Homo sapiens: one gene and its partners. The protein of the gene in region 1 interacts with the protein of each later gene in a pairwise test. Each region holds a gene or a part of one and is shown in the gene's direction. Other genes may lie near its edges. The genes, in order: CYB561, BIK, CMTM2 and SLC19A3.

Region 1 (8,073 bases):
GCAGGTGCCCTGCCACATGGCCGCTGTGCTGCTGGCTGCTCTGACGGGTCCTGCCGGGGCTACTGCTTTCCTGTCCCCTCCCCCGAAGCTGGGAGATGGATTTCCTCCCTGAGTGATTAATTGGTCTATTTTAAGCTCATCAAAGTAGCCTCGTACTTTCAAGTTCCTCAGGGAGCAGGCCCGGAAGATGATACCTGCGGACTTAAGGCTGCTCCACTGCAGGATATGGGGTCGGGGGCTGTGTCTGTCAATTGTGAGGTCCCTCAGGGCAGGCCCCCTCCTGAGCTGGACAGGGCTTGGCTCCTGAGTGCTGATTCTGCAGGCTGTGGCTCAGTTCTGCACTATTACTCTGGCTCCGGCAAATCCTCATGAAAATAAGCCTGGGAGCCCCGAGGGTTGCAGGTTAGCCCCCTACAGCCTTCCCTTGCATCATCCTTGCTCCTCTAACCAGGGACACTCCTGCCTCCTCCCTGACTATCTCTGCCGGGTTAACACCTGAGCATCTTCTGGCTCGATAATTCTGTCATGACCCAATACGCCTTCCCTGACCCTCACATCTGGGTTGAGGGCCTTCCTATGCCCTGTACCTAATCCTGGTTTTCCCTCTGTAAGGTGGTCAGAGATGGGCTTGGGCAGAGTAGTTTCAAAGGCTCTCCCCAAATCTCTGTGCAGCTCCCCTGACTGAAGGCCTGTGAGAACAGGGTGGTGCCTGTCTTGTTCACTGTTCCCCAATACCTCACCTAGTGCCTGGCACAGAGAAGGTACAAAAATAAAACTTTCCCAAGAATGAATGGTGTGCATTTGAATCTTATAGTGTCTGAGGACTGGGGAACCATCTCTTATCCCTTTGTATCCTCTGCTGCCCAAGGTCAGGGCCTCTGCCTGAAGTCCCTACTGAATGAGGGTTAACTGGTTCAGAGATGAGGGAGGAAGCCATTGCTGGGAGGGGCTAGAACTGGGCCCCTGCCCTTCCCACACCCGAGCAAGAGCAGTAGGATTGTCAGATGAAACACAGGACATCTGCTCACATGTGAGGAATACATCTTTTTTTTAAGACAGATTCTCTCTCTGTCACCCCAGGCTGGAGTGCAGTGGCATGATCTTGGCTCATTTCAACCTCTACCTCTTGGGTTCATGCCATTCTCCTGTCGTAGCCTCCCCAGTAGCTGGGATTACAGGCATCCACCACCATGCCTGGCTAATTGTTGTGTTTTTAGTAGAGACAGGGTTTTGCCTCATTGGCAGGCTGGTCTTGGACTCCTGACCTCAAGTGATCCGCTCACCTCAGCCTCCCAAAGTGCTGGGATTACAGGCATGAGCCATGGCACCCAGCTGGAATACATCTTTAGTATACTGCATGTAATATTTGGGACATGCTCATGCTGAAAAAACTAACTGAATTTGAATTTTTTTTTGGTTTTCTTTTTTTGAGATGGAGTCTCACTCCATTGCCCAGGCTGGAGTGCAGTGGCACAATCTTGGCTCACTGCAACCTCCGCCTCCTGGGTTCAAGCAATTCTCCTGTCTCAGCCTCCCAAGTAGCTGGGATTACAGGTGCCTGCCACCTTGCCCAGCTAATTTTTGTATTTTTAGTAGAGACGGGGTTTCACCTTGTTGGTCAGGCTGGTCTCGAACTCTTGACCTCAGGTGATCCACCCACCTCGGCATCCCAAAGTGCTGGGATTACAGGTGTGAGCCACCGCACCCGGCCTGAATTTGAATTTAACTGGGAAGCCTTTTTTTATTTTTTCCTCTTCTTTCTGAATCTGGTAACCCTAGCAAGGGAGAAGTGACTAGCCAGGTGCCAGGTGGGTCTACGGCCTGAGTCTCCAGCTCTCTATTCACATTCTGCCTGCTTCCTTGATGCTTCCTCCTCCTTAAATGCTTTCTGTCAGAGACCAGGGGGCACTCTAGGCCTGGCTGCCCAGCACGCGGAATCCAGGAGCACTCCTACCTCCTAATCCCTGCCCCAGCTGCCCTCTGGATGGTCAGGGAAGGCCTGAGGAGGTGATGTTTGAGCTGAGATTTGAGAGAATGTGACCAGAGATGATCCAGGAAAGAACATTCCATGGAGAGGTGGGAGTGAACTTGGTGCATCTGAAAACAGAAAGGCTAGCGTGGTTCTGCGATGTGGGAAGGGAGTGGAAACATGGAAACACAGTCAGCATTTCCTTTTTTTTTTTTTTTTTTTTTTGAGACGGAGTTTTGCTCTTGTTGTCCAGGCTGGAGTGTAATGGCGCGGTCTTGGCTCACCACAACCTCTGCCTCCTGGGTTCAAGTGATTCTCTTGCCTCAGCCTCCGGAGTAGCTGGGATTACAGGCATGTGCCACCCCGCCCGGCTAATTTTGTATTTTTAGTAGAGATGGGGTTTCTCCACGTTGGTCAGGCTGGTCTCTAGCTCCCGATCTCAGGTGATCCGCCCGCCTCGGCCTCCCAAAGTGCTGGGATTACAGGCGTTAGCACAACTCAGGAGGCCCTGGAACTCATCTTGTGCCACTCAAGAAAGGGCAGGAGGGGTCCTCTCCTTTCCCACCTTTCCCAAGCTGAAGGACTGCACACTTCTCAGGCTTCCAAGGCAGGAGCTTCGGCAGCAGGAACAGGGTTGCAAGGTAGTTAGTCTGGGTGTCTGTCGTCCTGGGTTGGGACATCTGGGAGCTGGGGCAAGGCCTCTGGGCCCTAGTGCCAGAGAGCAGTTTGGTGGCGTTGCCTGTTCTTTAAAATGGGTTAGGTGTAGCCATGAGCCCCCCCATGCAGCGGGTGTGCAGGCCTCTCCCTCAGTCAGAACACCCTCACCCACCCCTCCCCACTTGAAGCAGGCCCTTGAGAACACTGCTGGCAGGGAGGCGGCTGCTCTTCCTCCTAAGGGAAAAGCCTGCAGCCCCGTGCTGCTGGGCCGTGGGGTGAGGGGGAAGCCAAAGGGCCCCTATCACCCCTCAGCAGGAGTCTCTCCTGGCTTTGGAAGGGGCTGAAGGCCCGGGGCTCTCACGAGGGAACTCAGCCCTGCTCAGCCGGTCAGGACTCCTCCTCCACGTCTAAATCCACAGACCAAACAAAGGACATGGCTCAGTTCCACCTTCAATCCACAGGGATTCTGCCTGTTAGCACGCTAAGGAAACTGTTTCTTACTTTAAATTATCCATTAATTTCCTCCAACTGAAAGATACTCTACAAATTTTCTGTTGTTGGAGGGTTTAAGCTTGGTCCCTCTGAGGGGGTGGGCCCTGCTGTGTCGGCCCCTTGTGTCTGCTCGTGGAAGGTGTGCCATGTGCCACCGTGTGCCATATGCAGCTGACACGCCTGTGCGTCTCGCCTGGCGCTGGAGACTGCTCTCTGTGTACTAAGCGAGTACTGGATCCCCAGGGCCTATCTTGCCCACTGCCTGTGGCAATACACAGGCAATACACAAAGCGCATTCAAGTAAGCAGGTCTCCCTGCCCCCCGGCCTCCCAGAACCTCGGTGCCTGGAGGGCAGGTGGGGGAGGGCGTTCCTGAATGGAGGCCGGTTTCCCTCTGCGGGGAGGAAACCCCATTTCCCTCCTACCCCTAGGCGCTTGCTACATCTGGCCCGGCATCAGACAGGAAAGAACCCTTTCTTCCCAGCTTGTAGGAAGTCTGAGCTGGGCCCCTTATCTACCCACAGCACTTCCTGGACCGGGGGCCTGGACCGGGCTCCGAAGGGGCTGGCTCCCGGTCTTGGTCTTGGCCTCGGCGCCCTCGTTTCTCTGCGCTTTGGGCAGGGGAAGCTGCGGACGGCAAGCTCTCGGCTTTCGTGAGAGCCTGGTGGAATCGGTGTTCCCCGAAGGCTACTCTGCGGGGGCGGGGGCTAGTCCGGGCCTTCCCGGCAGTATCGTCTCCCCCGTGGGGGCTGGGGAGGTGCCCCCAGGGCTCCCGGAGCGGCGGCGTGGCCAAGGCCCGAACCGGGTCTGACATCTAGTGGCCTCCTGGGCCCGGGCAGGGCGAGGGCGGGGCAGGGAAGAAGGTGGAGGGCAGAATGGGAGGCGTGGAGCGAGAAAATCAGGAAGCGCGGGACCAAGCCGGGGAAGGGCGGCGGGTCTCGCCCCTGGCACCCGCTCTCCTCGGGGCCCGTCCCATCCCCCAGGCCTGGCCGACCCCAGGTCCTTCCGTGCGCAGTCGGGGCTCGCAAGGACGAATCCCGCGGCCCTCGAGGCAGGCCCGGGGGAGCTCCCGGCCCTCCACCCCCGCAGGCCGCAGATCCCACGCACCCCCGATCATGGGGGCCCCGGAGGGAGGTCGCGAGGCCGGGCTCACGGTGGCCGCGGTTCGCCCACGTGCGGGCCCGGAGCTGGCAGGGCCCGGTCCCGAGCGTGGCCGCAACCGCGGGGACCTGGCACGTGCGGGGCAGCCCCGGGGGCCGCGTACGCCACTTCCGGTCCCGGAGACACCGCCCAGCCCGCCGCCCGGTTGCCATGGCGACGCCGTCGCGCCACGGCCCGCAGAACCGGCCAAGCGACCCGGGCGCGGCGCGGGGAGGCTGAAGGGACGCTCGGGTAGGCAAGGTAGGAGGCCGGGCTGGGGGTGGGAGCGGAGCGCGCAGGGGTGCGGGGCGGGGGCGGCCCAGGTGAGCCCTGACTGCGCAGGGAGGGACAGCGCGGGGCTCCCGAGTAGCAGCCGGCCTCGCACCTGCCCCTTGCGGCCGCGCACTGGACTGCGGCGCCGACCCGCACCCTGGGCCCGAGGGCTGCAGGGCTCGCCCGCCCTCTCGGAGCCGAGCCTCTCCCGGTCCAGGCGGCCCCTGCCCTGGCCTGCCCGGGTGCCGGGTCTCTGCTGAAGTTAGAACCGAGACCCCCGCTTGCTGGTGACCCCGAGTTTGGATCTTTGCTCCTGCGCCGCGTTCTAGAGCAAGGTAGGGTGCAAATGGACCAACCAGCCTTTGCCACGGCTGCCCTCTTGAAATCTGAAACCGGAGCCACCGCCTCTTGCCCCGAGCAGGGCCCGGGCTGCAACGTGGAGCCGCAGGTCCCCGCCTGTGTCTCCCGACGCCCCCAGCTTCTGAGCGCGAGGGTGGGAGTTTCCCGAGTGGGAAAGCCCCATGGCTTCGGTGGCCTCGGTGGCCCTGTGGTGGGTCAGGCCGGTGCCAACTGCGCTGAGGGCGGAGCTGCCGCCACCTTGACACCTGGGAGATGGCAGGGCCACCCTCCCTCCCTCCCTCCCTGCCCTGTCCCCGACTGTATCACGGAGCGAGGATCATCCGTGTGGATCTGGGGTCCCCTTCCCAGACTTCTCCTTTCTGGTCGTCCTCCTCTCATTCATTCCACCTTGGCAGCCTTTGTGGATTTTCTGACTCCGTAAATGAAGTTACATCTAGGGCGCCTAGATTCTGCCCCTTTGGTTTAATAGCTAATGAAAAAAAAAAAAAAAAAGCTTTGCCACCTCCTCTAGGTGCCTGGATTTCTCCCGGTGAAATTTGATGGAGGCAGGAAAATACGAGGCGGTGGCAGCCCCACCTCCTTGCATGAGGGAGCCTCCTAGAGCTGGAGGTGGAACCACCCTGCTTGTCCCACTCCTTTTCTTTCTTGCTTTATTGCTTTCTTGCTTTCCTTACTTTCCTTCCTTCTTTTTTTTTTGAGATGGAGTCTTGCTCTGTTGCCAGGAGGCTGGAGTGCAGAGGGCAATATCAGCTCACTGCAACCTCCATCTTCCGGGTTCAAGCGATTCTCCTGTTCCAGCCTCCCTAGTAGCTGGGATTACAGGTGTGTGCCACAACACGCAGCTAATTTTTGCATTTTTAGGAGAGACGGGGTTTCACCATGTTGGCCAGGCTGGTCTCGAACTCCTAACCTCAAGTGATCTGCCCGCCTTGGCATCCCAAAGTGCTAGGATTACAGACGTGAGCCACCGTGCCCAGCCTTGTCCTACTACTTTTCTGCCCTCACCACTTTTCCTTGGCAGGCAGAGCTTGGGCTCCTGCTAATACTGGGATGGTTCAGTGGCATTAGATGGCATTGGTGGAGGGGAATGAGAAATTAACCCCCTCTGAAAGCGTAGCTTCACTGGGAAAAAGCACTCTACTGTCTGAACAATTCATAAATGAATTTTGGGAATATACAATGTCACAGATTAAAAGCAGACCATCCTGTGTTCTTCCAGCCCCAGGAGCTTCTGCTTGGTGTGCAGGGGCTAATGGTGGACAGCAATGGAGTGTAGATTTATTAGAGACGGCTGCCATCTGGCTCTCTGTGGCCCCAAACCTCATGTGTCAGCAGTGTGACTCTTTCTAAGGTGCTCTTAGGACCAGATTTCGTTTTTGTAAGATTGGTCTTTGATGGAATGCCTACTTTGTGGCAGGCACTGTGCTGGGCGCTGGCACACCTTTATCCACTTACTCCTTCTGTGTTCAATAAGGTAGCTCCAGATATCCTCCACTTTATAGATTAGGAAGCAGGCTTGGAGAAGGGACTTGGCTTGTCCAGGAGCTGATGGTTATAAATAATGAGTCTGTTTTGAAATCACATCTCTCTAACCTGGGCTGCGCTGGGCCTTTCATGGGCCGTTGGCCCTCTGGCCTTCACGGGCCCCGTCTTCCATAAAAAAAATAATAACAATTGGCCCGGCGCAGTGGTGAAAGCGCGTCTCTACAAAAGATACAAAAAATTAGCCAGGCATCGTGGAGCACGCCTGTAATCCCAGACTCGGGGAGTCTGAGGCAGGAGAATTGCTTGGACCCGGAAGGCAGAGGTTGCGGTGACCCGAGATCTTGCCATTGCACTCCAGCCTCAAAAAAAAAAAAATTAATAAAAATTATATTTTACAACTGCATTGGTATAAATACAAGTATAGTCCAGACTGGATTACAATTAATTTTAAAAACAAAACATTTTAGGGCTGGCTCATGTCTGTCTGTAATCCCAGAGCTTTGGGAGGCTGGGGCAGGAGGACTGCTTGAGACCAGGAGTTTGAGACTAGCCTGCACAACATAGTGAGACCCTATCTCTCCAAAAAAAGAAAAAATTAACTGGGCATTTCAGCATAGCTGTAGTTCCAGCTACTTGAGAGGCTGAGGTGGGAGGATCCCTCGAGCCCAGGAGTTCGAGGCTGCTGTGAGCTATGATCATGCCATCGTATTCCAGCCTGGGTGACAGAGGTAGACACTGTTAACAACAACAACAAAAAAATTAATTAAAATAAGTTTTAAAAAATTGCAACATTTTCCTCAACCCTAAATGTTCATTTTTTTCTTCTGATTTTCATGGAAATGGAAACATTTTGGTTTGTAAGCATTGGGAGCCCTCTGTCTTGTGGGAGAAAGGAGCTCAGTGTTTGACTTCAGGCTCTGCTGCTTCCTGGGTACCTAGTTCCTTGGTACCTGGTCCAAGCAGCCTGGATACCCCGGGTCCCTGGGCTGCCTGGGCCAGGACAGCCGCCCTAGGATAAATGGAAATGCAGCCCCTGCGGCTTGTTCACCCTCCTGTAATGCCTTCTCTCTTACCCTTTGGTCAGGGCCTGGTGTCTCTGCATGCACCAGGGCTTAGTGCCATGCTGGTACAAGCGTGGGGAGGATGCAGGAGGACTGGCATGGGATGGGGAGCACTGCCTGGGAAGCCCCTTCTTCCTGGGGCTACTGGGGTGCTAAGAAAGTACCCTAATAGCTCACACCACACTTTGCTTTCTCCTTCATCACATGCTAGGACGCTCTAGGGCAATTGAGCTGTTTTCCCCTTCACCCATCAAGAAGAGATATCGGCCTTTCCGCAGTCACAGTCTTTCCTAACTCAATTCAAACTCTGCTGTTGATAAGGAGGGCTGTAGCCAGCCCAGGCTGCCCGCTTCCCAGCCTCCCCTGCTCCGCCTTCCGCCCCCGAGGCTGTGCACCATGTGCAGTGTCTGGTCCCCAATAATGAGATTAGTCTTGGTTGCCTTTTAATAAAACGCAGTGGGCACCGGGAGGGAGAGCGATGCTTGGCTCAGTGAAGATCTGCGGGTCATGCTGTCCCTAATGCGCTGATTGCATTAAGTGGATTCTGGCTGCAGGTAGGGTGAGTGGGTGGGGACGAGGGTGACTCTCACAGCTCTAAGATCCAGAAACTGCCAGAGATCTGTCACCCTCATCCTGA
Region 2 (7,726 bases), on another chromosome or scaffold:
GGAGTTTCGCTCTTGTTGCCCAGGCTGGAGTGCAATGGCTGGGAATACAGGCGTGAGCCACCTCACCCGGCTCAAGATTCTTACACATTTGACTTGCCTGTAATCCCAGCACTTTGGGAGGCTAAGGCGGGAGAATTGCTTGAACCCAGGAGGCGGAGATTGCAGTGAGCAGAGATGGTGCCACTGCACTCAGCCTGGGCTAACGTGAGACTCCATCTCAAAAAAAAAAAAATTACGTCTTGTGTCACAGAGCTGCAGATAAACCAGAGACTACTCATAACCGTGTACTTTTTTTTTCCCCCATTTCTGATCCCGTCTCAACGGAAGGATGTAATTGAGGAAGGGCTTGATTGGCCAGTGAGTCTTGAAGCTGACACCACTGCTGGTGGTATTTTCCCCTCTCCCTGGAAAGCATCCTGTTTTTAGTGAACCTATTAAATGTGTAGACAATTAATGGCTTTTTGCTTCCCCTGCTGCAGACTTAGCGGATCCCATGAGATTTTGACTACCGTCTGTGCTCAGAACAGTTTGAGCCGTATGGAGGAAGTCTCCGCACCAGTCTTACTGTTGGTGGTCACCAGGAAGCCAGCAGTGTGTCTGAACTGGACACATGTGGCCACTTCCTAGCCTCCCTTTGTCCTGCCACTGGTTGGTTGGGGCTGGGCCCTGGGAGAAACATAGAATGTGAGCAAATCAGTCCGTGGCCCCTAAGTTCCTTGTTGGCCCCGAGGCAGGCAGGAGAGGGGCGGGCACACAGGGCAGCTGATTTTCCTAGTGTCAATATTAGGATGTGACAATACAAAACACCACTGGGCCTCGCCAGGCACTGCATGGTAAACCTGTTTTTCTGGGGGTGGGACAGAACTTGGCACCCAGTTAGCCAAACTGAAAAGCCATGCAGCAAAGAGAGAAAAGCTCACTTGTTTATTTGAGTGAGGGTCCCTGTCATTTTGGATATTTAAGATCAAGTATTCTTGACCGCCCCCTCCCCGAGATGGAGTCTTGCTCTGTTGCCCAGGCTGGAGTGCAGTGGTGTGATCTCAGCTCACTGCAACCTCTGCCTCCCGGGTTCAGGTGATTCTCCTGCCTCAGCCTCCCGAGTAGCTGAGATTACAGGCGCGTGCCACCACACCAGGCTAATTTTTGTATTTTTAATAGAGATGGGGTTTCACCACGTTGGCCAGGTTGGTCTTGAACTCCTGACCTTGTGATCCGCCCGCCTCAGCCTCCCAAAGTGCTGGGATTACAGGTGCGAGCCACCGTGCCTGGCCAAGAGATGACATTTATTGTGTGTGACAGTATCTTCGAGATTAGAGGCTCCCTTTCATGTGAGGGCAAAGAGAGCTACCTGATTCCAGGAGGAGCTGAAATTCCCTGTGCAGACAATGGCGCATCATGAAGATAAATCCGAGCTCGGACCGTGAGGTGGTCAGCACGGGTGTGCGCCTCGCAGAGCAACAGGCTCACAGAATGAGAGCTGCCTCTTAGTGGGCACTTACTGCATACCATGCATGCAGCATTTCACCTCCTTCTCAGGGCTACATCTGCCCATGGGGCTTTCCCTCCTGCCCTTTAACAGAAGGTGATACTGTCCAGTCCAGGGTCTCCCAGCCAGGAACAGCCTGCCATCGTGAGCCCAGCACCAGAGTAACCCCTTCCCTCATTCTCAGGATTTTGCAGTGAACTCTCAGGCTGTCTGCATCCTCTCACCGGCTTTCACTGGGTCCCTGCTCTGTTCTGGGGCCATGCAGGTTCCCGACTGGCTGGGGCAGACACACAGGTAAACATTTAACGAGACCTTGATGGGCTGAGTGCCCAATCCAGGTCTGTTTACCCAAGGTGCTGGGACAACACAGATGAGGAGCATTTAATTCTGTCCTGGGGAGGGTGGGGAGGAAGTGACTTGTGCCTGAGCCCCAAGGAAGCAGTGAGTCCCCCGTGCCTGCCTGGGGGATGTTGGTAACAGAGGGAGGATGTAAAGGAGGAGCTGGGGTGTGAAAGGGCTGGGTGCAAGTTCATAGGGGAGACCCAAACACTGAAGTGGAGCCCAGGGGCCGTACCTGCCTCTCAAGCCTCAGGGTCGGGGCCAGGGTGAGCAGTCTTCATATTCTTCAGCCTCAGCATTTCAGAACTTGTTTTATTTTTTTTTTGAGATGGAGCCTTACTCCTGTCGCGGGGGCTGGAGTGCAGTGGCGCGATCTCGGCTCACTGCAACCTCCACCTCCTGGGTTCAAGTGATTCTCCTTCCTCAGCCTCCCTAGTAGCTGGGATTACAGGCGTGCGCCACCACGCCTGGCTAGTTTTTGTATTTTTAGTAGAGATGAGGTTTCGCCATGTTGGCCAGGATGGTTGTGAACTCCTGACCTCAGTTGATCCACCTGCCTCAACCTCCCAAAGTGCTAGGATTATAGGTGTGAGCCACCGCGTCTGGCCTATTTTTTATTTTTGATTGAGTCTTGCTCTGTTGCCCAGGTTAGAGTGCGGTGGCACGATCTTGGCTCACTGCAACCTCTGCCTCTCAGGTTTAAGTGATTCTCCTGCCTTAGTCTCCCGAGTAGCTTGGACTACAGGTGCCCGCCACCACGCCCGGCTAACTTTGGTATTTTTAGTAGAGACACTGTTTCACCATGTTGACCGGGGGGTCTTGAACTCCTGACCTTAGTTGATCCATCTGCCTTGACCTCCCAAAGTGCTGGGATTACAGGAGGGAGCCACCGCGCCCCGGCCCAGAACTTGTTTTAAATATGAACTTTTGAAACTTAACAACTGTAGGCCCAGGTGGTGGCTTGGCATTCTCTGCTTCCTTCATGGTGATAAAAAGGCACAGGCTTCCCCTTTTTGGGGTCATTTCAAAATCAGTCAAGAGAATTATTAGTCTGTTAGACTTCCTCTACGGTTAGGATTATTTTTATAGGTGTTCGAACAGGAAAGGACATAGAATAAAATCTCCTCCCCTAACTTATTGATACAGGGTCTCACTCTGTCGCCCAGGCTGGAGTGCAGTGGCGCAGTCACAGCTCACTGCAGCCTCAACCTCCTGGGCTCAAGTGATCCTTTCGCCTTGTGCTCTTAAAGTGCTGGGAGCCTCCAAAAGGCTAAGCTGTGACGTTGGGTAGGTTACATGTATTAAATGCATTTTTTTTTTTTTGAGACAGTTTTGTTCTTGTCACCCAGGCTGGAGTGTAATGGCATAATCTCGGCTCACTACAACCTCTGCCTCCCAGGTTCAAGTGATTCTCCTGCCTCAGCCTCCCGAGTAGCTGGGATTACAGGCGCCCACCCCCACGCCCGGCTAATTTTTGTATTTTTAGTAGAGACAGAGTTTCACCGTGTTAGCCAGAATGGTTTCGATCTCCTGACCTCGTGATCCGCCCGCCTCGGCCTCCCAAAGTGCTGGGATTACAGGCGTAAGCCACCGTGCCCGGCCTGGTGAAACCCCGTCTTTACTAAAAATACAAAATTAGCCAGGTGTGGTGGCGTGCACCTGTAGTCCCAGGTACTTGGGAAGTTGAGGTGGAAAGATCACCTGAGCCCAGGGAGGTGGAGACTACAGTGAGCCATGTTCATGCCACTGCACTCCAGCCTGGGTGACAGAGAGACCCTGTCTCAAAATAGTAATACTCCATATTGGGCCTCTCACAGGGGAATCTTGGGGGGAGCTGCAGCTCAGGGTGACTCCCATCTTGTCACTAGCCAGGTGACCCCTTCATTCTGGAGCCTTAGCTCTGAAAGCCGCAGGTGGGGGTGCCGTTTCAGATGCCCCTTTTCCATTTCAAAGGCTCTGATTCTAGATCTTGAAGCCGGATGCGGCACTGGCACTTGGCTTCAGTTTCCACTGTGACGGACGGAGGTCTCCCAGGCCCAGCCCAGGCAGCCAAGCCCATCCTGGAATCAGAACACGCTGAGCACATTTTGTAGGGTGGCACCTTTTTATCCAAGTTACTAGCTACACATCAGTGTTTAAAGAGAAAAAAGTGAGCTGTCTTTTTTTTTTCTTGAAACTTGAGGAAACAAGGTACATACTACGGATTTTTTTTTTTCTTTTTCTTTTTTTTTTTTGAGACAGTCTCACTCTGTCGCCCAGACCGGAGTGTGGTGGCATGATCTCGGCTTACTGAAAGCTCTGCCTCCAGGGTTCAAGCCATTCTCCTGCCTCAGCCTCCCGAGTAGCTGGGACTACAGGCGCCCGCCACCACGCCCAGCTAATTTTTTTTGTATTTTTAGTAGAGACAGGGTTTCACTGTGTTAGCCAGGATGCTCTCCATCTCCTGACCTTGTGATCTGCACGCCTCAACCTCCCAAAGTGCTGGGATTACAGGCGTGAGCCACCGCGCCCGGCCCATATTTTTTTTTTTTGAGATGGAGTTTTTCGCTCTTGTCGCCCAGGTTGGAGTGTAATGGTGTGATCTCGGCTCACTGCAAACTCCTCCTCCCAGGTTCAAGCGATTCTCCTGCCTCAGCCACCCGAGTAGCTGGATTACAGGCGCGCACCACCACACCTGGCTAATTTTTTTTGAAACGGGGTAGAGACGGAGTTTTATTACCATGTTAGTCAGGCTGGTCTTGAACTCCTGACCTCATGATCTGCCCACCTTGGCCTCCCAAAGTGCTGGGATTACAGGTGTAAGCCACCGCGGCTGGCCCATTTCATATATTTTTAAAATTTTTTATTGTTAATTTATTTTTAGAGAGGGGGTCTCGTTGTATTGCCCAGGCTGGTCTTGAACTGGGCTCGTGCGACGTGCCCGCCTCGGCCTCCCGAAGGGCTGTGATGACAGCACAGCGGTGCCTGTGATCTATGGCTTCAATTTTTCAAGGCTGCCAGGTCCATGCAGGGGTGTGTGTGGGATGCATCCCTAGAAATCAAAGGTCATGTGCGTGTGTGACTGGTGGATGCTGATGGTCACACTACCCTCCAGAAAGGCAGCAACATGTTCAGTCCACCGTGGCGTCCTGAGCTGTGAGTGGCCTCTGGTCTCCTCTCTTCTAAGGCTGTTGATTGTGTTAACCAGCTTTTATGGAGCCCCTGCTAGGTGGTGGAAAATGGGCAGTAGTGTATGTTTTCATCCTCTCAGCAGCCCTGGAGGCCCGGCTGTTTCTGCAAGGCTCAGAGGTGAGCTGGTTGTTCTGCCTCACACAGCAGGGGCCGAGCAGGGGGTGGAACTGAGGTCCAGCCTGGCTGCAGGCTCAGGGCGTTTCCTGCTGGGTTACACTGGAGTTGTGTGCGCTCCAAGGGCTTTGTGCCACCCCACCCTCATGGTCCAGGGCCAGGCTGTGACTGGGAGGGTGGCACGTGGAAGACTGGACCAGGGTTTTCTAGCTGGGCCCACTCAGCTGGCCCTCCCTGTGACCCCAGCGTGGCCCCTGACCCTCTCGGTTTGCCTGCCTGTGAAACAGGAAGTGTCAGATCCCGCCTGCTTGGCTTTGACAGGACTGGGCGAGGTCATGAGAGTCTGAGGGTCCCTACCAGGAGTTCGACCTCATCCTCAGGTCCAGCCCCATCCACCTCTGCCCCCAACCCCGCTCTGACACTCCTGCAGCCTCGGCCCTCGAACACCTGCTGAGGGCTGAGCAGAACACATCTCTACTTGCTTGTGCTTCTGGGCAACCTGGGAGGGGCTTGGGAGGTAGATGGCGTTTCCCCATCTTCCAGATGAGCCATAGGCGAGCTGTCGAGTGCAGAGCTGTTCACCAAATGTAGGCTGCTCTGTCCAGAACCTGCCCTCCCTCCCACTCGGAGCCCTGCAGGTGCCCTCAAGGCCGTGGGTGTGGTACTCTTTTCTGCACATACTAGATTTGCATCCTAACCTCTTAGGGTAAAATAGGGCTTCTGACTGGCGCCTGGTGTTTCCACTGGTGAGTGTGTAGGAGGCTAAGTGCGGGCTGTAGCCTGGGTGGGGACACATGGCTAGGTGTGTCTTCCTTCACCAAAGAAGGGTTTCAACTACTCATTTGCAAGTTTGCTGGAAAAAAAAAGATAATAAAAACCAGTCCAGTTTCCTGTATCTGCAGCTGCAGTGACCTCACAGTGGGTCCTCTGGGAATAGGTTGCCTTCATGTCTTCAGTCAACAAACATATGTCTGCTCTATGCCAGGCCTTGGGCTGACAACCAGAAACTGATAAGAGCAGCAGCCCCTCTCTTAGCGGTTTACTCTGTGCCGGATCATTTCATCCCCACAACAGTCCTGTGCAATAGGTGTTACTAGTATCTCCATTCTAATTTTTTTTTTTTCTGATATGGAGTCTTGCCCTGTAGCCCAGCCTGGAGTGCAGTGGTCAGCTGGAGCCAGAGGGGAGCAGAGACAGGGGCTGCAGGACCCCCAGGAGGCCCCCAAGCAGACTCTGAGGGTCCAAGAAGGTGATGCCCGAATAGGCCAGCCTCATACCCATCCTCTCAGTACTTTGGGAGGCCCAGGCGGGAGTTGAAGCCAGGAGTTCCGAGACAAGCCTGGGCAACAAAGCAAGACCCTATCTCTACAGCAATTCTATAAAAATGAGCCAAGTGCAGTGGTACATACCTGTCGAGTTACCCTGGAGGCTGAGGTGGGATGATTACCTGAGCCCAGGAGTTTGAGGCTGTAGTGAGCATGATCAGGCCACTGCACTCCAGCCTGGGCAAACGGGTGAGACCCTGTCTGTGAAAAAAATAATAATAAAATTTAATTTTTAAAAAAGGACCAATAGGCGTAGGCATGGGCCGGTCTGAGGTTGGCTGGTGAGCTCTGCACATTTGAAGACTTTGGAGGCATGGCAGGACCAGGCACCATCCATGGAAAGCATACTTGAGTGTGGTTAGCGCGGGAACCAAGATTGGGGTGGCAGGGCCACAGGGGGAGGGCCTGTTAGTGGATGTGGCACAACCCCCCACTTGTTTTTGAGACAAGTCTTGCTCTGTCACCCAGGTTGGAGTGCAATGGCGCGGTCTCGGCTCACTGCATATTCTGCCTCCTGGATTCAAGTGATTCTCCTGCCTCAGCCTCCCAAGTAGCTGGGATTATAGGCGAGCGCCACCACACCTGGTTAATTTTTGTATTTTTAGTGGAGATGGCGTTTCACCATGTTAGCCAGGCTAGTCTCAAACTCCTAAGCTCAGGTGATCCACCTGCCTCCACCTCTCAAAGTGCTGGGATTACAGGCGTGAGCCGCACTGCACCAGGCCAGGTCTAGGGAGCCGAACAGAGCAGTGACAGGGTCAGGGTTGAGGCTGCTACCTTGAGATTAGGTTGGAGAGAGCTCCACTGAAGGCTGGAGACCAGTAAGGCATTCAGAGCTGGTGCCAGGTAGGAGCTGACAGGACTGGGCCTCCCTTGGGCTGGTGGGGTGGCCAGGAGAGACCAGAGCAGGAGGTCGCTGCTGCAAGGACCCTCCTGGGCAGGCTCCCCACCTTCCGCTCCCTGGCTCCACACTTTTCCCATGCAGATCTGGGCCCTAAGGCCAGCCTAGGCCCAGTTGGTGATGGGATCTTTGCCATTCATATCAAGTCAATCTGAGGGCCTGGGCCCAGAGGCCAGATGGTTAAAGGTTCAGATTAGGTCCCTTCTTTGTGGTAGAGGGTAATGGGTATTTAATAAATTAATCCAAAGTGCTGTAATCCCAGTACTTTGGGAGGCTGAGGCGGGTGGATCACTTGAGATCAGGAGTTGAGACCAGCCTGGCCAACATGGTAAAACCCCGACTCTACTAAAAATACAAAAATTAGCCGGGTGTGGTGGCATGTGCCTGTAA
Region 3 (8,045 bases), on another chromosome or scaffold:
TCTCAGTTGTAAGAATCCTTGTTCACATCTTTGACTACCTTGGTTTATACAATCCTCAGGTGTAAGCTTCCTGCAAAGCTGCAAACCACTGTACCTGCCTCAGTCAGGCCTGCCCACTATGGGCAGACCTCTCGCTCAGCCTGCAGAACCCAGCTGGGACTTACTTCCAACCTCCACCAGCCCTGCTACATACCCCTGTTCCAGCATTAACTACCAGGCACCAAAACAGTAGGCATTAGTGCCTTTCCAAGAGGCAAGTCACATTCCACAAGAGGGCTCCTCGGTCGCCAGCCCCAATAGGAAGAACATCTGGAGTTTGCAGAGAGTTTACTATCTGTTAACATTTTGAGGGCAGATATGAACCTACATTTTGATGCACTCCCACCAGCTACTAGATGCCAGGCATGTTATCAGATGCTTTCAGATTCATTATGCCATTTAATCCTCAGAGCCAATGAACCTCAGTCATTATCCCCATATTACAAATTAGCAAGTTGGCAGATGGGTGATAAAATACGCCCAATCTAGGAATTGGCAGGCCAAAAGAGTTCATCAACAAAAATACTCAACTGACTGGTACTGTATCATTTTGACCCTCCAGACCCATTCCACAGAAAATGCCAAAGATGGATTGGATGCTGCACTTCCAGACTGGGAGAATAGCTCATTTCCTCCTTATTTGGGTGTCCCTCATGGGAGGCAATAGTGAGTTGAGTTCTGATTCCACCCATTATTCAATCCTAGGCAACTGAAAAACTCCAAGCCTCCACCATGTCCTCTGTAAACTGGGGATGATGGCAATTCTGACTTTGGAGGCTGCTTTGTGAGGGTTAAATGAGGTTAAATGATGGACTGGGAAATGCTTGACACATCAAAGAGCTCCATTGGAGCCACTGTGATTCCATGATACCATACACTGGATGGCAGTGCTTCTTGCTGTGTTTGGACGAGTGTGCCAGAAAGGCTGCCATTACCAAGGCAGACCATCAACACTCAAAGACTTGAGCTATTCAGATTAGCTCTCTGGCCCATATTGTGGTTATGTCCTCTGGGCTTTTGCCCATAGCCATACACTGCTGCCACTGACACACTGTGTACTCGTTCCTCCATTATTGTTTTGCTAAGGAAACCCAGCCACTGCTCACCCAGGAGGGCACTGCCACGCACTCATCCTCACTATTCATTTCAGCACACAAAGAAGCAGGTTGGGCTAGCAGTTAAAGAACTCAGGACTGGCCGGGCGCGGTGGCTCACGCCTATAATCCCAGCACTTTGGGAGGCCGAGGCGGGTGGATCACTTGAGGTCAGGAGTTCATGACCATCCTGGCCAACATGAAGAAACCCTGTCTCTACTAAAAAATACAAAAATTAGCTGGGTGTGGTGGCAGGCACCTGTAATCCCACCTACTCAGGAGGTTGAGGCAGGAGAATTGCTTGAACCTGGGAGGCGGAGGTTGCAATGAGCCAAGATCGCACCATTGCACTCTAGCCTGGGTGACAAGAGCGAAACTCTGTCTCAAAAAAAAAAAAGAACTCAGGACTGAAATCCAATTGAAACCCAGAAGAAGGAGCACAATGAGCCTGCAGATGTCGGGGCACACCCAATTCTGGCCATGTTTCAGGAAAGAGCAAAAAACATTCACTCCAGAATATCAGGCCTGCTCCTCAGATGAGTTCATATGCTCTTGGGACACATGAACTCACAGAATAAATGTGGCCCAATTTCCAGAGCGTTGGCTTTACCTGCAGATTTGGGAGAAGAAGTAAACCAATAATTAAAGTGCTCATCTAAAATTTTATTTTTATATTAAAACAAATGAGTTATGGAATAGAATGCAGAATTTACATTAAAAAATATAAGACTTCCCAAAAAAAATCACATTTATGGAGGGCCAATTTGGGATAGGCCCCTTGACCACCAGGTTTTTTCATGCTCACTTTCCTATTCCCTTTAAGGAAAAAGTTGTTAGCTTTTTTTCTAATGGTATTCTTTAATGAAAATAAACCCGTTTCTACAGACAAAGTCATATCTAGGATCTTAAAACCACATAAACTCATGTCTCTGGACGATGTAAGAATTATGCCTCTGAAGGTTCCTCCTCATCTTAATCAAATGGAAGGTTTTTTAAAGGCATCTATTCTTAGATGTGTAATTGACCAGTTTAAATATTTGTGAAATTATATTGTTGTGTAAACTTGATAATTTTCAATTCTTTATTACAGGATCTTACCAACAGTATCATTACAGCTGTGTTCCTTTCAGTAGTTGCCATCTTGGCCATGCAAGAAAAGAAAAGAAGGCATTTACTCTATGTCGGGGGGGTAAGTAGAGGCCTTCATGACTCCATTTAAGATCAGTATTCCAAGACTTTGAAAAGGGAAATTGGCAGACCCCATTATATCATTAACCAAGCAAAATCCCCACTGCCACCCACTCTCCTTCTTGCACTGACTTCTTCAGGTGATATGAAGTTGCACAAACTCTGAGCTCATGAAAATCTTAATTCTAACATGCATTCTCCAAATAGGTACAAAAACAAGAGTCTGCTAAACCCCTTTTGAGAATTGTGGACACTATTTTTGAAATGTTAAGCAAGATCTTTTTGTCTATAAATAGGACTTTGATTTTCTGGACTAGAGAATTGTATTTTAAAGACAGATGATAAGAGAGATTGTAAGGGGGGAAAAGTGCACTGTCTAAAGTGAGGAATCCAGCCTATTCAGGAAGGAAGGAAGGAAAGAAGGAAGAAAGGAAGGAAGGAAACTGCCACATGTTGAAGTGCCCAGTATATGCCCTGCACCAAGCAGGGCACACTCTGACTTAATCTTTACAACTCTCATTTGTACAGATATAGGAACTGAGGTTAAATACCTTGCTCTGGGCCACAAGACTGGGACAAATTGGGACTCAAAAGAAATGGCAGATCAAATGCTTGGAAGATTCAGGGGGTTGGGAGGGGAGGTAGGGCTTTGGTTCAAGAAGTTAAACAATGAGAACAGAAATTAATGCAGAAAAAGAGTTCATTTGAATTCATTCTATAATCAATAAATATCTGTCAATCCCATTGATTGTGCCAGACATGAGCTCAGTGCTGGGGATAGAGCCCTTTCCCCTTTGGGGAAGCTCACAGATTCACTGGGGCAAGACATACCTAGGAAAAGCTCATTAAGCAGCCAGGAATTAAGTGACCATAAAGAGAAACATCCAAGGTTGTCAAGAGTCCCGGAGTGCACAGGGGAATATCTGTGCCATCAGCCCCTGGTCCCCATCGGCTGACTCCGCTATCACTCCTTCTACTGCCAGGGGTTCCCACCCCCAGGTATCCATTTCTTACCTGGATGGCAGCATCCCACCCCACCACGCACTGGTCTTCCTGCCTCCAGCCTGGTTCACCTTCCATTCACCTCATGAACACTGCAAGCAGGTTTTCTGAATCTCACACCTGACCTCCTGATAGAGTCCCAGATCCTGCACCTCTCCAGCCTCAACTCTGCCCCCTTCTCAGCGGCTCTGGAGGTCCTGGCCACACCAGATTCCTTAGAGACCCTAGTCCAGTGCCTGGGTCCTCCTCCTCCCCTTAGGAACTCCTTCCTGCCCTTTGCAAACATAGCCCAAAAGTCTTTCCACGGAGAGGGCTTCTCAGGACCTAACCCCTACCTGCAGCCACCTAGGGCCACTGCCCTTCCCTAGTCCTTTCCGGGTGCCTCAGACATCAAGCGAGGCTACTACTGGCAACAAAATCCCCCACTTCCAAAATCCCTTTTTCTGGGAAAGGCAGAATCCGCCTGCAGCAGCCAATTGGGCAGGCGCCAAGAAAGTAGTGAAGGGTCAGAGGGGACAGGAGGCCACCCGCAGCGCCCACCCTGGATAGGGATAGGTTCGAGAGGTTGCTACTGAGCTGCAAAATAACCCCGTCTTTCCTTCCCGCATATGGTCTTGTATCTGACAGTCCCTGTGTCTCACAGCGGTAATCGTGTGTTGCATCGATGCGTTTGTGGTCACCACGAAGATGAGGACCAACTTGAAAAGATTCCTGGGAGTCGAAGTTGAAAGGAAGCTTTCCCCCGCCAAGGACGCCTACCCCGAAACCGGCCCCGACGCCCCGCAGAGGCCCGCCTGAAGCCAGCCCGGCGCCCTAGCAGATGCACGTGTCTGTCGAATCGCTGCCTCCGAGCCCACCCCCGAGCTCGCATGCTGTCACCCATTCCAGCCTAAATGTGACCATAAAATTAGGGCTGCTGCTTTTATCGAGAACACCTGCTTCCTCTCGTTGCCTTGTGTGAAAGTCGCGTTGTATTTTCCTGCGCTTGGCGCTGCGCCCGCGGAGCTCAGGGCCGTGACCCGGTGCTCGCAGCCCCCCGACCCCGCAGCGGAGCGGCGGCTTACAGACCTGGGGCCACCTGGAGACGCCGGGATGGGACCGCGAGGGCAGCTCCGCGCGGAGGTGGGACCGGCGGGTTGGGAACGGAGTTGGGGCCCGTCGGGGGCCGGCGCGTGGAGGGTGGGAGGATCCGGCCGCTGCCGGGCGGATGGGAGCTGCGCGAGGAGACGGGCGCGCGTGGAGAGGGCGCGGGAGTTGGCATTCGGTGGTCCTGGCAGTTAGCTGAGCACGCCCTCTGAGCCGCTCGGTGGACACCAGGCACTCTAGTAGGCCTGGCCTACCCAGAAACAGCAGGAGAGAGAAGAAACAGGCCAGCTGTGAGAAGCCAAGGACACCGAGTCAGTCATGGCACCTAAGGCGGCAAAGGGGGCCAAGCCAGAGCCAGCACCAGCTCCACCTCCACCCGGGGCCAAACCCGAGGAAGACAAGAAGGACGGTAAGGAGCCATCGGACAAACCTCAAAAGGCGGTGCAGGACCATAAGGAGCCATCGGACAAACCTCAAAAGGCGGTGCAGCCCAAGCACGAAGTGGGCACGAGGAGGGGGTGTCGCCGCTACCGGTGGGAATTAAAAGACAGCAATAAAGAGTTCTGGCTCTTGGGGCACGCTGAGATCAAGATTCGGAGTTTGGTGAGCTAAACTGGTATCCCTGGGTGGGGGGCCTTGGCCGAGGGTGGGGGGAAGGAGGAGTAGGCTCCAGGGGTCCTCAGAGAGATGGTGAAAGGCCCTTGCTGCTGGCTCAGGTGTCTATGTCTCACTGCAGGGCTGCCTAATAGCTGCAATGATACTGTTGTCCTCACTCACCGTGCACCCCATCTTGAGGCTTATCATCACCATGGAGATATCCTTCTTCAGCTTCTTCATCTTACTGTACAGCTTTGCCATTCATAGATACATACCCTTCATCCTGTGGCCCATTTCTGTAAGTAAGGGGTGATGGGGAGTGCCTGCATCCAGAATGCTGATCAGGTGTGTCTTGGCACCTGGAAAGTCACCAAACAGAGAGACACACCTCACCTCCCATATCTGTGCCTGGGTCAGGGACTCAGAACATCAGTGGGGCCCAGGCAGAGGCAGCTGGGTGCAAGAGGGGTAGCTAGGCAGAAAATGCTCCAAAAAGCCTATCTGTGTGTTGGAGTGAGAGTGGGGAACTCTTACTTACCTGGTGGTCAAAGAGGGCCTGAGCCTTTGTTCTCTTTAGGGGAAGGGGAGGTGTAGCAACCAGCTGTTCCTCCGAACTCCTGTGCCAGCTCACACTTGACAGGAGATCACCCCAGAAGGACCCCATTCCCAAAATTCAAAGAAGAAAATTACTCTCCCATAAGTCAATAAAATAAAACAAAATGGGAATTTTTTTTAAAAATCACTTCTAAAGCAGCGTTAGGTCTCCAGTGAATATCCCTATAAAGGATGTTTGGATCAGAAGGATGTTCAGCCCAAAGCAGTCATCTAGTGGAAAGAGACAGAACTGGGCAAGTTACTAAACCATTCCCAGCCTGTTTCCTCATCTGTAACATGAGACAGTCACATTCCTTGCAGAACTGACATTCAATCCTGAGGATTAAATGTAAATTGCTTGACACCGTGCCTGAGGACTCATGGAATTGAATCCCTGCCCATCACCTGTTTAACCACAGGGCACAACCACCTAACCCCTTGCCAGTCAATGAAGACCCCAATTCCCAAGTCCCTTTGTTCATTGCACATTCACAGCCTGCCTCCAGAGCCCTCTTGTTCACTGTTTCACTCACGTTACACATGAGGAAATTGGCCTAGAATGGCCAAGTAACTTGCCCCCAGGTCACTCAGCTGGTAAGTAGCAGAAAAAAGCTTCAAACTTAGCTTTATGAGTACATTTCATCCTGCCTTCTTGTTAAAAACTATTAGGGTCCAGGGATCCAGAGGTCTTGGTGAAGCAGATGAGGACCTCCGATACAGGGAGAAAGGACAGGAGGGCCAAATAAGGACTCTCAGAAAAGGGACAAGCAGAGGACAAGGTAAAAGGACAGGCAGAGGACAAGTTCCTAAACAAGGAGCCTGAGAAGACATTTTTAGTTCCAGCAAGATGAAAAACCAATGAACCCTGAACATCTTCCCACTGTGCTTACCTAAAAATACCAGGGGAAATGTAACCAGTATTGCTTTAACTGAATGAATGAGCTGGCAAAAAAGAAATGAAAACACACAGGCGCCAGAAATGGCAAACAGGGCAGTGATCACATAAGCTACAAAGTATGAGTGGGAATGGTCCAAGAGGTATTGTCTCAGGAACCTACAGCCTGGATTTTCATGCACTCTCAAGTCAGGAAATAAGGCCTTGATCCTAAGCAAAGTGGGAATTTAGAACTGAAAACCCTGTATAAAGCCAGCGCCCTGGAAAGACTACCTCCTTAGGGAAAAGATGGACAAAGACACATACCCTTCTTATTCCCAACACAGAGGAATAAGAAAACATGTTCATCTCTGCCTGAGCTTTGAGTGGGCGGAGAGGAAGTCTTCCTTGAGAAATAGAAAGCTTAAGCCTGCCCTTTGTACAGATTGGAGTTTGAATTTTTGTTATCTGCAGCCTAGAAACCTTCATGCAGCCCAGAAACCTTCATCCCTGGGAATTACCATAAAAACTGATCCCAGTCTGATGACATTCTGCTGATATCCTTGGACTCCTGATAGAAACAAATGCAAAATCACAATCAAGGCATGAAGAGATTCTCACAGTGGGGGTGGGGGGAAAACCTTGTCAAAAATGAACTAATAATTCAAAACTACTAAACACCTGATTTTAAAAAATCCCCATTACTAAGAATCAACAAACACAACAAATGGATTAGAATCCTGAGAATATGAGATAATAGAAGAGCTGTCTGAAAATAATAATATATTTTAAGGGATTATAGACATAAGAGTCCTGAGAAAAGAGTAAGACACTATGAGGACAAAATAGACAGATTTTTAAAAAGTACAGTGTCTAGAATAGAAAATATAGTTATTGAAATAAAAATGTCAATAGATGAATTCAAAAACAGATCAGACATAGCTGAAGGAGGGAACTGTTAACTGAAAGGTATGGGGAAATTACCCAGAACACAGCACACAGAGAGAGAGAAAATAAGAGATTGAGACAGAACAATGAGTGAGAACATCCATCAGTGGTTGTTGGGCTGGGTGTGGTGGCTCACACCTGTAATCCCAGCACGTTGGGAGGCTGAGGTGGATGGGTCCCTTTGGTCCAGGAGTTTGAGACCAGACTGGACAACATAGGGAGACCCTGTCTCTACAAAAAAATTTAAAAATTAGCCAAGCATGGTGGCACATGCCTGTTGTTCCAGCTACTCAGGAGGCTGAGGTGGGAGGATGGCTTGAACCCAGGAGGTCAAGGCTACAGAGAGCTCTGATGGTGCCACTGCACTCCAATCTGAGTGACAGAGTGAGACCCTGTCTAAAAAATAATAAAAGAGGTGTCAAGAAGCCAGGCACAGTGATGTGTGCCTGTAGTCCCAGCTTCTCAGGAGGCTGAGGCAGGAGAATGGCATGAACCCGGGAGGCAGAGCTTGCAGTGAGCCGAGATCGTGCCACTGCACTCCAGCCTGGGCGACAGAGTGAGACTCCATCTCAAAAAATAAATAAATAAAATAAAATAAAATAGACATCTATCCAAACCTGCAC
Region 4 (7,726 bases), on another chromosome or scaffold:
TCCTACCTCAGCATCCCGAGTAGCTGGGACTACGGGCATGAGCCACCATGCTCGGCTAATTTTTGTATTTTTAGTAGAGACAGGGTTTCCCCATGTTGGCCAGGCTGGTCTCGAACTTCTGGCCTCAAGAGATCCACCCGCCTCGGCCTCCCAAAATGCTGGGATTACAGGCGTGAGCCACCGCCACCGGCCTCGCATTTCTTTATAAGAAGTACAACAAGAAAATGCACTGACCTAACTGCAAAATTACCCTGGGCTGATTTTACAATCTCCAGCCTTAGCCTTGAAAACACTGTGTAAAGTGTGTGGCTTCGCCTGCAAGGCTGATGGGTGCCTCGGGTGGTGAGGTGGCAAAGACAGAAAGGCAAGCTTCTTCTGTAGCATCAGATCACTTAGGGACAACCCTGTTTCCGAGTTGCTCAGGTTGAAGCATGCCACAATTAAGACAACAAAGGACAGATGCAGGGTCAGAAGCAACTCAATGAATCCACTGGGTTCTGCTTCTCGAGCCACTGTGGACCAGTTAACAGACCTTCCCTCCAAGGAGCAGCTCAGTTGTGTGGTCTTTGCTCTGTGGCCTCCTGCTTTCTCCAGCAACCTCAGTGATCCAGGTGTCAAGGTGGGTACGTTCAGTGATTTGAGAGGCTGCGGCACTCACCCATCCCTACAGATCAGCAACTCCAGTCCTTCCAACTGTGAAAATTGAGATCCCATGCATTTCTGACTAAATCTGTGAGATGATCCATATTAAATTGAGCCATAAACAAATCAGCAGAATTGTTAGGGGGAGCAGGGGGAAGGTTGGGAACCTAGCAAATTTGCCCATGAAGGAAAATGAGATACATTATTTGCTTCCACTCTATAATGTGGCAAAGTTATTTACTCTTTCCCTATTTTCCCATATCTTTCCAGATGTTGGAAGGGCTGAAATATTTGATGTAGTGATAGATCACATGAAAATAAAGGCTGTTGGATTCTTTTTGTTGTTGTTGTTCAGATGGAGTCTTGCTCTGTTGCCCAGGCTGGAGTACAGTGGCACAGTCTCGGCTCTCTGCAACCTCTGCCTCCTGGGTTCAAGCGATTCTCCTGCCTCAGCCTCCCAAGTAGCTGGGATTACAGGTGTCTGCCACCATTCATGGCTAATTTTTGTGTTTTTAGTTGTAGACGGGGTTTCATCATGTTGGCCAGGCTGGTCTCGAACTCCTGACCTCGTGATCTGCCTGCCTCGGCCTCCCAAGGTGCTGGGATTACAGGTGTGAGCCACCATGCCTGGCCTGGATTCTTTTAACATTGTGGTCTACTTGTCTAATGTTAATATTCAAACAAGAAGGAAATTATATTTTTTAAGAATCTTGGGCCGGGCACGGTGGCTCACGCCTATAATCCCAGCACTTTGGGAGGCCGAGGTGGGCGGATCACCTAAGTTCAGGAGTTCAAGATCAACCTGATCAACATGGTGAAACCCCGTCTCTTCTAAAATACAAAAATTAGCCAGGCATGATGGCGGGTGCCTGTAATCCCAGCTACTCAGGAGGCTGAGATGGGAGAATGGCTTGAACCTGGGAGATGGTGGTTGCAGTCAGCGAAGATCGGGCCACTGCACTCCAGCCTGGGCAGCTGAGCAAGACTCCACCTCAAAAAAAAAGAATCGGAAAATCTTAGAAGTGTCCAAAAACTTTTTAACTCATCTACTCAACTGTACATACTATCTAAACTTAATACATAATTCAGATTGCACAATAAGCCAATATATTTTTCTGCCGGGGTTTATCTAAGTGTGTACATTGGTTTTTACCAATGGGAAAGGAGACTATCTTTTCTTGTGATTTCCTTGAAAATCAGTTTTCTCATTATGTTTCTCCGTAATGCGAATAATTTCCAATTGGAGGCAGAATTTGAGATACAAACCACAGGTACCTTAGTAAAGTACCGGTGCTTCGTGGTCATGCAATTTACCAACTTTGCAGATAACAAATGAGATCTTCCCCGTTTGGACATACTCCTACCTGGTGCTGCTGCTGCCTGTGTTTGTCCTCACCGATTATGTCCGCTACAAGCCAGTCATCATCTTGCAAGGTATCAGTTTCATCATTACCTGGCTGCTGCTGTTGTTTGGCCAAGGAGTGAAGACCATGCAGGTTGTAGAGTTCTTCTATGGGATGGTCACCGCCGCCGAGGTGGCCTACTACGCCTACATATACAGCGTGGTCAGCCCCGAGCACTACCAGAGAGTGAGCGGCTACTGCAGGAGCGTCACGCTGGCCGCCTACACAGCAGGGTCGGTGCTGGCTCAACTCTTGGTATCCCTGGCGAACATGTCGTACTTTTACCTCAACGTCATATCCTTGGCCTCTGTCTCCGTGGCTTTCCTTTTCTCACTTTTCCTACCAATGCCCAAGAAAAGCATGTTTTTTCATGCAAAACCCAGCAGAGAAATAAAGAAGTCATCAAGCGTGAATCCAGTATTAGAGGAAACTCACGAAGGTGAAGCACCAGGCTGTGAAGAGCAGAAACCCACATCAGAAATACTCAGCACTTCAGGGAAGCTGAATAAGGGCCAGCTGAACAGCCTGAAACCAAGCAATGTGACTGTGGACGTTTTTGTGCAGTGGTTCCAAGATTTGAAGGAGTGCTACTCCTCAAAACGTCTTTTCTACTGGTCTCTATGGTGGGCTTTCGCCACAGCAGGTTTTAACCAGGTTTTGAACTATGTTCAAATCCTGTGGGATTACAAGGCGCCATCCCAAGATTCTTCCATCTATAATGGGGCCGTAGAAGCTATTGCAACCTTTGGAGGTAAGCAAATGTCACTTAATCTTCCTTTGTTGGCTTTACCCGCTTAAGTCCATTCCTCCAGGTACCGAACTTCATGGCAGCGAATTAGCTCTGTTCAGAAGGAAGCATAACTTTTTTCAGTCAAGAATGAAAGTCACGGCCGGGCATGGTGGCTTATGCCTGTAATCCCAGCACTTTGGGAAGCTGAGACGCGTGGATCACGATTTCAGGAGGTCGAGACCATCCTGGCTAATGCAGTGAAACCCCGTCTCTACTAAAAATACAAAAAATAAAATAGGTAGGCGTGGTGGCGGGCACCTGTAGTCCCAGCACTTTGGGAGGCCGAGGCTGGCGAATCACGAGGACAGGAGATGGAGACCATCCTGGCTAACACGGTGAAACCCCATCTCTACTAAAAATACAAAGAAATTAGCCGGTCATGGTGGCGGATGCCTGTAGTCCCAGCTACTTGGGAGGCTGAGGCAGGAGAATGGCATGAACCTGGGAGGCTGAGCTTGCAGTGAGCCTAGATCGTGCCACTGCACTCCAGCCTGGATGACAGAGCGAGACTCCTCTCAAAAAAATAAAAATAAAAATAAAAAGAATGAAAGTCACTGGAAAAATAAGAATACTGTGACTTTCTATTGTGTTGTAGTTACAAGTAACTTTTTTATTTTTTGAGACAGAGCCTCACTCTGTCACCAAGCTGGAATGCAGTGGTGCGATCTCAGCTCACTGCAACCTCTGCCTCCCAGGTTCAAGCTATTCTCCTGCCTCAGCCTCCTGAGTAGCTGGGACTACAGGCACGTGCCACCATGCCCAGCTAAATTTTTTTGTATTTTTAGTAGAGACGGGGTTTCACCATGTTGCCCAGGATGGTCTCAATCTCTTGACCTCATGATCTACCCGCCTCAGCCTCCAAAAGTGCTGGGATTACAGGCGTGAGCCACCACGCCCAGCCACAAGAAGTAACTCTTAGGAGCTCAGGGATTAGCACCAAACAATGAAATTCTAGTTGAATCCCTAAGATTCCAATTCATCATTAGCACAAAGGTTAATAACATGCCCTGTTCTTTTAGGATTATTTTTAATATCAAAATATATACATATATGTGTATATGTTTTCATTATTTTAGAAAATAAATTAAGGATTCCAAATTCTCACTGAGGGTTTTGTTAATACAGGATTTGAACTAGCTAGCATGCACCTATAACAATTCTAGGCTATACACCAACAACTTTCAAAAGCAGCTTTCTCATGGTATTTAAATGAGGGCTGGAAGAGATGTGAAAGTCAGGATTTTAATATCAGAGGGAAATCTGTCTTTGAAGTTTAATCTACAATAAATGTTTATTTCCTAGTAACTGGAAGCTTAAATGTCAAATGAGACTTTGAAGATATTTTTTAGGAAGTGAGAATTCGCCCCACCCTCATTTACAAAAAGTTTTAGAAAACCCGTGTGACCTCTATTTTATTATTATCTCCCTTTTGGGAAGCTTCAGTTTAACTCCTGGAAACCAGGACTGTGCCAGAATTGCTTCACTGAAATTATTGCTCCTACATTCCAAATCCATGGGGGGAAAAATAGTTATTTTTTTTTTCCTCTGTGGTCATGATCACATGTGGGAAAGTTAGTCATATGTCAATGTAGTAATTTGAAATCTAAATACCTTTTGTTTATTTATTTATTTTAGACAGAGTCTTACTCTGTCACCCAGGCTGGATTGCAGTGGCATGATTTCAGCTCATTGCAAACTCTGCCTCCAGGGTTCAAGTGATTCTCCTGCCTCAGCCTCCTGAGTAGCTGGGATTGCAGGTGCCCGCCACCATGCTGGCTAATTTTTGTATTTTTAGTAGAGCTGGAGTTTCACCATGTTGGCCAGGCTGGTCTCTAACTCCTGACCTCAAGTGATCCACCCCCTTCAGCCTCCCAAAGTGCTGGGATTACAGGAGTGCGCCACTGTCCCCAGCCCTAAATACCTTTTACCTTTGTTAAAGAGAACCACACAAAAGTGCTAACCCTAATTACTGTCAATTATTTCAATTTCTTGAACTCTGTAAGTCTATATAGATATTTTCACCCAAAGCTTCTCAAGTAAATTATGTCAGATGTTGAAGACTTTAGAGTGGAGATTGGAAATAAGACTAAGATTACTAAAGGTTCATAATAAAGACTAAAACTGGGTAGGGCAAGAAAAAAGACTAAAACTTTCAATGTAACACATCTGATACTCATCACTGAAAAAGACTTACAGCAAAAACTGAGAAAAGAAAGGCAAATAGAGAGGCCAGTGTATTCCCAGAGAATTTATTTCATCCTTTTCCATCCCTGCATGTTGTACTGAGTGACTAGGTTAATGTATCATTTCTCCTTACACTGCTGTGGTTAGGAACCTTTCTGGCCCCTCTGCAGAATACAGTGTCTGGCGTGTAGTTGATGCTAATTAAAAGTATGGTGACTAAGTGACCGAAAGAATAGCAAGTGAAAAGAAAAGCCAAAAGAAGACACGCTTGAGAAAAGGATAGATCCACATTCAGGTCGATCACACAATTTTGTGAAAGCAATATATTTATCTTTCAGAATTACCCGAGACCTGGGTTTTTAAGAGAGGGTGTTGATATTTTCCTGCATGCAAAGTCATTATGTTTGATTGCCTTCAATGTTTTTTTTCAGGGGCTGTGGCTGCCTTTGCAGTGGGTTATGTGAAAGTCAACTGGGACCTTCTGGGAGAGCTGGCTCTGGTGGTCTTCTCAGTTGTCAATGCCGGTTCTTTATTTCTCATGCATTACACAGCCAATATCTGGGCGTGCTATGCTGGCTATTTGATATTCAAGTCCAGCTATATGCTTCTTATAACCATAGCAGTGTAAGTTTTACCAACCACTCCTAAAACTGAACTGTATTCCTCTCTCTTCTGTCTTTCTAAACTTTCTCTAAGAACTTCAGAAGGATTTTAGTCAATTGCAATATTAAATGTTGACTGCTTTATATTAAATTAGACACAACTAAGCCAACTTTTCATTTAACTATTTGCTCTCTGAATATTGCTACAATATACCTTAAGTCATCAAGGGAAAAAACTCTGTAGGTTTATAGACCAAAAGCAGTGATACATTGTCAGGTTTTTCTTTTTGTTTTATTTTGTTTGAGAGATGGCCTGGCTCTCTTGCCCAGGCTGGAGAGCAGTGGTGCGATCACGATCAGGACTCAATGCAGCCTTGACTTCCCAGGCTCAGGTGAGTCCCCAACCTCAACCTCCTGAGTAGCTGGGATGACAAGCATGTGCCACCATGCCTAGCTAATTTTTCGTATTTTGTAGAGATGGGGTTTCACCATGTTGCTCAGGCTGGTCCCAAACTCCTGGGCTCAAGCGATCCACCTGCCCTGGCTTCCCAAAGTGCTGGAATTACAGGTGTGAGCCACTACATCTGGCATCATTGTCAGGATTTGATTTGTTTATTTCCAGCAACTTTCTACATAAAGTGTGATGTGATCTGCTTTCAAATGGTTAGGTTTAGATTTCATTCCTACTTTCATTTGTTTGCTTGAGAAATTCTAAGCACATACTTTTATGACACAAAAGATTCTCAGGAAAGTTATTAAAAAGTTGGATACTAAAAAAAGTAGATGCAAAGATAACAAGAAACCTTTAGCTGCAGTCGTGTATGGAACCAAGCAGTTTTTCTTTTCTTTTGTTCTTTTTGAGACAGGGTCTCACCCAGGCAGGAGTGCAGTGGTGCAATCATAGCACACCACAATCTTGATCTCCTGGGCTCAAGCAGTCCTCCCACCTCAGCCTCCTGAGTAGCTGAAACTACTGGTGCACACCACCATGCCTGGCTAAATTTTTAATTTTCATTTTTGTAGAGACAGAGTGTCACTGTGTTCCCCAGGCTGGTCTCAAACTCCTGGGCTCAAGTAATCCTCTGGCCTCAGCTTCCCAAAGTGGTAGGATTACAGGTGTGAGCCACCACGCCAGATCTAGTTTTCAGTCATTTTCTAAAAATAATTTCTGGGATTTAGAATTTCCCGTCATTTTTGCTTCTACTTTTTTCTCAGAGATCTCTTTAAGAAAATGATTAAAAAACCATTCGGTTTCATATAAAAGTACAGCTAAAGCTGACTACAGAAAATATGCTTTGCTATTAACCAAAAAAAATGAGAAACATTTGAATTTCAAATTGCATGAAAGAAGTGGAGACAAAAGCTTCATCAAGTTTTGCTTTCAATTTGTGAAGAATGTTTTATAAACAATTTACAACACAGAAATATGAGCACTCTGGGAAAAAATCATCAAAGGAAAAAACAATTAGTTGGTATGTTTATTTTCTTCATGGAAATGTCTTAATTTAATCAGAATCATGTATCTTAGGTTGCTTTTTTTTAAATGTGAAGATTTTGTTAAAGTAGGATTATATCATTTCTTTGCATTAAAAAAAAATATTCACGGCTGGGCACAGTGGCTCCCGCCTGTAATCCCAGCACTTTGGGAGGCCAAAGCAGGTGGATCACCTGAGGTCAGGAGTTCGAGACCAGCCTGGCCAATATGATTAAACCCCGTATCTACTAAAAATACAAAAATTAGCTGGGCATGGTGGTGAGAACCTGTAATCCCTGCTACTGGGGAGGCTGAGGCAGGAGAATCCCTTGAACCTGGGAGGCAGAGGTTGCACATTCTCATCAGCATTTATTGCTTGTTTTTTGGATAAAAGCCATTCAAATTGAAGTGAGATAATATCTCATTGTAGTTTTGATTTATAATTCTCTTATCAATGATGTTGAGCACCTTTTCATATACCTGTTTGCCATTCGCATGCCTTTAAAGAAACATCTGTTCAGATTTTTGCCCATTTTTAATCTGATTATTAGACTTTTTTTCCCTGTAGAGTTGTTTGAACTCCTTATATATTCTGGTTTTTAATCCCTTGTCACATGGGTAGTTTGCAAAT

Evidence for each region.
Region 2: the proteins of CYB561 (region 1) and BIK interact in binary tests that used the Homo sapiens proteins (3 or more experiments, as listed by UniProt).
Region 3: the proteins of CYB561 (region 1) and CMTM2 interact in binary tests that used the Homo sapiens proteins (3 or more experiments, as listed by UniProt).
Region 4: the proteins of CYB561 (region 1) and SLC19A3 interact in binary tests that used the Homo sapiens proteins (3 or more experiments, as listed by UniProt).

What each region holds. Positions count from the first base shown.
Region 1 is NC_000017.11:63,442,690-63,450,762, reverse strand, and holds the start of CYB561 (transmembrane ascorbate-dependent reductase CYB561), read left to right. Parts: upstream 1-4,456; 5' UTR 4,457-4,518; exon of another isoform or gene 4,519-4,865; intron 4,866-8,073. UniProt on the Homo sapiens protein: Transmembrane reductase that uses ascorbate as an electron donor in the cytoplasm and transfers electrons across membranes to reduce monodehydro-L-ascorbate radical in the lumen of secretory vesicles.
Region 2 is NC_000022.11:43,113,330-43,121,055, forward strand, and holds part of BIK (bcl-2-interacting killer), read left to right. Parts: intron 1-7,726.
Region 3 is NC_000016.10:66,574,881-66,582,925, forward strand, and holds the start of CMTM2 (CKLF-like MARVEL transmembrane domain-containing protein 2), read left to right. Parts: upstream 1-4,582; 5' UTR 4,583-4,727; coding exon 4,728-5,012; intron 5,013-5,145; coding exon 5,146-5,304; intron 5,305-8,045. Other genes in the region: CKLF-CMTM1 protein, read left to right, coding at 2,224-2,322, 3,951-4,121; CMTM1 (CKLF-like MARVEL transmembrane domain-containing protein 1), read left to right, coding at 2,224-2,322, 3,951-4,121.
Region 4 is NC_000002.12:227,693,806-227,701,531, reverse strand, and holds part of SLC19A3 (thiamine transporter 2), read left to right. Parts: intron 1-423; exon of another isoform or gene 424-481; coding exon of another isoform or gene 482-619; intron 620-1,967; coding exon 1,968-2,796; intron 2,797-5,450; coding exon 5,451-5,643; intron 5,644-7,726. UniProt on the Homo sapiens protein: Mediates high affinity thiamine uptake, probably via a proton anti-port mechanism. Has no folate transport activity. Mediates H(+)-dependent pyridoxine transport.